2 separate regions of the Homo sapiens genome follow, and region 1 is linked to region 2. Evidence: fine-mapped expression QTL. Tissue or cell type: blood mononuclear cells. Region 2 holds a variant in brackets; the other region holds the start of a gene. All regions are shown on one strand. Distances are from middle to middle.

Region 1 (2,683 bases), 22 kb before region 2:
AAATCCAGGTGACTGTATTTGTTAAATGAGTAACAAAAGGAAAAACAATGTAAAGAAACAGAAAGGAAAGGAAGAGAGAAATACAAAGATCTGAGAAGAGAAGGTGCCAGGGGCCGCTGAGAGATTGCCAAATGTTAATTTCATTATTTGGCTTCTTATTTTATTCTGGGTAAAGGTAGACCTATTAGTTTCCTGTTGCTGCTATAACAAATTACCACCAACTTAGTGGCCTCGAACAATGCAAATTTATTCTTTCAAAGTTCTGGAGGACAGAAGTCCAAAAATGTGTCCTATCAGCTGAAATCAAAGTGTTGTGTTCCTTCTGGAGGCTCTAAGGAGAATCTGTTCCTTCTCTTTTCTAGTTCTAGAGGCCATCTGCGTTCCTTGGCTCATGTCCTTCTTTCAGCAATGGCATCATCACTCTGACCTTTGCTTCCATTGTCACATCTCCTTGACTCTGACCCTTTTGCCTCCCTCTAATAAGGCCCCTCTGATTACACTGGGTCCACCAGATAATCCAGGATAGCTCTCTGTCTCAAGATCCTTAATTTAATCATATCTGCCAAGGGTTTTGTTTTGTTTTATTTTGTTTTTGCCATTTAAGGTAATATATCCACAGGTTCTGGCAATTAGGTTGTGGACATCTTTGGGGCGACAATTCTCAACCTACCATACAACCGGTACATAAGGTTCTACTACCTACTAAATGCATCATAAACAGAACTTCTGATCCTTCAACAACTCTGTGAAATATATGACAGGATTTGCTTTTAAAGTTGAAGAAATCAGGCCTTGGTGCAATTTGGGATTCTGCCCATGGTCAAATAGTGGGGAGGCAAACCCAGGTCCCTGAACCCAGCTCAAGCCTGCCTGCCTCATGGCCATGCCTCCATTCACCTCTCCCCTTCATGTCTACTTCCTCTTTCCTGTCTGGGCCTGTTCCCTAGCTCCCTGGACAAGCTTAAGCTGCTGTTTTCCAGCTTGTCATGTGCTCCTTATGACAGTGTAGCCACAGCTTGATCTTGGGGATTGCTGATTGAGCAAGCTGAGTGGCTGCCCCTCAGAATCTTCTGTAGGCCTTTCTCTTGCCTTCTTTTATTCAGTAAGTGTTTTGAGCTTATTGTGCTGGGTGCTAGAGTAGCAGGGAGGACAGACCTAAGTTGAAGATTACGGGACAATCTAAGTGACACCTGCTATCTCAGACAGAGACTTCAGCATCATAGGGAGCCAGAGCAGGGAGTTCCAAGCCGTGGGAACTGTGACTCTTTCTTACTGACCCTTAAGCAAAATTCTAAGCTCCAGGGAAGCAGAGGCAGCAGCTTGAGCTCCCTGATTGACCAGATATGATTAATCTTTGTTTCTCTGTGCTTTGAACATGACTATGCTCCATAAATATTTAAAAATTGGGAATAGGGTGAAGATAGATACACCAAAAGGAGCAAGCAGTGTCTGAAACCAGCAAAGACTTAAAAGTTACCGAAGAAGGTGTTCATGCTTTCATTTTATCTTTTTTTTTTAACCTAGCAACTGATGACACTGCATATCTTCCCCTGTTCTTATTGGGAGAAGGCCTTGTGTGTCACCAAGAGGTTCTCAGAAGGGACCTGTCAGTTTTTGGTTAAAAGAACCCGGAAAGAGAAGGACTATGGGGGAACTGATGGCGTTCCTGTTACCTCTCATCATTGTGTTAATGGTGAAGCACAGCGATTCCCGTGAGTATCCCACGTCCTCTTCTCTCCTAACTCCAAAGTCGAGGCAGCCTAGAAGGCACAGCTTTTCTTCCTAAAACTTGTGGTGAAAAATATAGAAGCCAGGGGCAGAAACGTGTATGTATTACACTCAGACTCCAGGAGCAATGGATTGCCTGAACAGTTTCCCAGTTCATATTTGTAGGATTTTGATGTCACCACCTTCTGAGGGAGGGGGAGCCGTTCTAGAAAGACTCTGGAACTTCCTCACTTTCCCTCTGAGCATGGCCTCCTTTCTTTTCTGCTCATATTTTTTCTTTTACTTTTGTTTCTCCTCTTTTCTAACTTCCAGAGTCTCATGAGGATGTAGTCAGAGTTTCAGGGGCATTAACAGTGGAGTAGATCCATTGTTCAGGTTTATTTATGTTTTTCCTCAACACAAGCCCTACCTGTAATAAAAGATCCAAGAAAGATAAAACCATGGCTCTGGGTTTGTTTACTGACTGTGAGAAGTATTAATCAAGTAGAAGGGAGAGTTTTTCATTATTCGGGGAGCTCAAGTCACTGGGGAAGCAAATGCCTTCTGTTGCCTCAAATAGGGGAAAGGGCCCATGGGCTAGAACCACCAGGCTTCTCTGCCCTAATCACTTGCTCCCTGGGCTGAGGACTGGTACTGGTGGGCAGTGTCCAGAACTTAGACTTGGCCACCACCATAGGTGTGACTGATGAACATGAGAGGAAGGAGTTCTTTCAAATCACCCATGCACATAGAGAGTGGAATGACTGACCATGGAGATTTGGAAGGGCGAGGGGGGTGGATGATTAGAAATTACTTAATGGGTACAATGTGTGTTACTTGGGTGATGGATACCTTAAAGCCCCAACTTGACCACTACACAATCTATGCTATAACAAAATTGCATGTGTACATCATAAATTTATACAAATAAAAAAATTTTAAATCATATGGCTGGGAGTGGTGGCTCACACCTGTA
Region 2 (2,683 bases):
ATTCTTTCATCCCAAGCATATGAAAGTCCTTTTCCTTGTAAATTCATTATTCAAAACATTAAATATGTAAGAGTAGATACCTTCAGGGAATGGGACTTAGAGTAAGGAAAAGGGGAGGAGAAGTAGGAGATATATAGGCTCTTGATAATGTGGAATAACATAAATTCATTCAGTAAGTATACATTAATGACCTACTGTGCTCCAGGCACTGTACTGGTTGCTGGGATATAACAATGAACAAGACAGATACGATCCCTGTTTTCATAGAGCTTACAATAGAGCCTGGTAAGGTTATCTCCTGGCTCTGGCTTCACTAATTGCTCAAATTGATCACAGGATAGTACCGATGAGACCATGCTTTGAACCCAAAGTGGACCAGAAGTTTGGTTTTCCTTCATAGACATAGACCTCAACTCCAATTCAGGTGATAACTGTACAAAAGCATGTTGTTAGATCAAAGTAAAACCAACCCTTTTACTAGAAAATCAGCTCAGAGGCCGGGCGTGGTGGCTTACAACTTGTAATCCCAGCACTTTGAGAGGCCGAGGCAGGCGGATCACTTGAGGTCAGGAGTTCGAGATCAGCCTGGCCAACATGGTGAAACCCTGCCTCTACTGAAAATATTAAAAAAAAAAAAATTAGCTGGGCGTGGTGGCACATGCCTGTAATCTCAGCTACTCAGGAGGCTGAGACAGGAGAATCGCTTGAACCTGGGAGGCGGAGGTTGCCGTGAGCAAAGATCGCTCCATTGCACTCCAGCCTGGGCAGCAAGAGCGAGACTCTGTCTCAAAAAAGAAAAAAGAAAAGAAAAGAAAAGAAAATCAGCTCAGAGAGTTAATGGGTTGTTAATGTTTTCTTTATAGATAAAGTACAGCACTAATCCTAATCCAATAAATGATAGTGAAACAAACAAAAAATTTTTTTACAATGACATCCCTCTCTCAATAATTATACAGACTGTGAGTTCCTGCTTTTTATCTTATAGAGTTTACAAATTTGAGCTAAAGTTTGTCAAGTACTAAGAGAATCTTGACAAAGCAAGCTAAAACTGTCGATGCCTGTTTCTCAGATTTTGCTGAACACTGCATACTTTATTTTTGAGCTGTGAGGAAACATTCTTGTAATCTGACTAAAAACCCCTTTCCTTTCAGAGCAAAATGGAGCCATCTACCTTCCAACACCAGATCGATGATT[G/A]CAGATCCCTCTTTTCCAGTTCTCCTTCCTCTAGGAGCCATGTTATCCTCTGTCCCCCATAGAGTCAAGCCTAGTGCTTGAAGGTCCTGACGACACCCACAACATACATGAGAGTAATGGGATTGAGCATTTATGGCAGCAACAGAGGAGCCACAAAATGTTCTTTGTTCTTTGGCTCCAAAAAGACTGTCAGCTTTCAGTCTCTTTTGATGGACTGTTTTATCAGAGTTGACTTTAAATACAGCTTGTCTCATGACACAACGCTTCCCTACATTCTATTTGTCAATGATGATTTGCAACTAGTTGGAGATTCTCAGAGCAGGAAGGAATCTTTTCAACCAGAGCAGGAACTGTCTTCTGCAATGCCTTGGACTTGAGCCTCCAGCCTCCACTTGAACACCATGTGAAGGGAACCTCAGTACTTCATAAAATGGCCTTTCTCATTCATCTTTCATGGGAACATTTATTGTACAAGCGCTTTGAATATCATGGGCACCATGACTGTGACCCTACAGGTAGGATTGGATCACTCCATGAGAGTAGCCGGCAGGTTTCTACAATGGCCTGGGAATGGACTGATTATTTTTATACATTTTCTGGCCTGAGAGAAAGCCAAAGTCCCCTGCTGTTCACAGCAACCCTGCCTGGGAGCTTGGAATCTTGGTAATCTGCCCGGTTGGATCTATGGAGGTAGTCTCACCCTTTTTGTCTTTTGTGGGAAATTAAGAGAAATAATTATCAGACATATCATCACCTCCAGTGGAACTACAGAGACCTGGACCCAGCTGCACTATTTTAATGTAAAAATAACAGTATGGCCAGGTGCAGTGGCTCACGCCTGTAATCCCATCACTTTGAGCAGCCAAGGCGGGCGGATCACGAGGTCAGGAGATTAAGACCATCCTGGCCAATATGGTGAAACCCTGTCTCTACTAAAATACAAAAAATTAGCTGGGCATGGTGTTGCGTGCCTGTAGTCCCAGCTACTTGGGAGGCTGAGACAGGGGAATTGCTTGAACCCGGGAGGCAGAGATTGCAGTGAGCCGAGATCACGCCACTGCACTCCAGCCTGGCGACAGAGTGAGACTCTATCTCAAAATAATAATAATAATAATAATAATAATAATAATAATAATAACAGTATATTTGGTGTCAGGAGAGGGCTCAATTCTCATTTCTGCCTTTCCTGTGCTGGCTCATGGTAGCTGGGCATGACTTGCCTTCCTACATAGGTTGTCTTCATACATATGCACTGGGAATCAATAAAAGCCCATGGTGAGAATGAACATCCCCTTAATGTTCCTTACTATCCCCAACCCCTGAGGCCTCACCTACTGCCCTGCCATGTGGAGCTACTTGCCCTGGGGCTGCCAGTCACACATTCCTCGGTCCTACTTCTCTGACCCCGTTTGACTCTGCACCTGAGCCCTAATGCTTACTTCAGTGACCTGAACTTTGACAAGTGGCTTTTGTCCTGCACCTCAGGTTT

What was found. PIP is the estimated chance that this variant, and not a neighbour inherited with it, causes the effect.
Region 1: MR1 starts here. The variant in region 2 is fine-mapped to the expression of MR1 in blood mononuclear cells (TOPMed, PIP 0.95). The same link has a PIP of 0.9 or more in aorta.

What each region holds. Positions count from the first base shown.
Region 1 is chr1:181,032,363-181,035,045 of GRCh38, forward strand. MR1 (major histocompatibility complex, class I-related) reads left to right here and starts at 1,621. Exons shown (of 6, transcript NM_001385161.1): 1 at 1,621-1,712. The coding sequence starts at 1,646. RefSeq lists enhancers at 801-990, 1,191-1,290, 1,421-1,530.
Region 2 is chr1:181,054,074-181,056,756 of GRCh38, forward strand. It overlaps MR1 (major histocompatibility complex, class I-related), which reads left to right. Exons shown (of 6, transcript NM_001385161.1): 6 at 1,152-2,683. The coding sequence ends at 1,192. Among named protein-coding and RNA genes, the nearest start is that of MR1, 21 kb to the left of the region's middle. The variant G/A (reference allele first, on the strand shown) is at 1,195.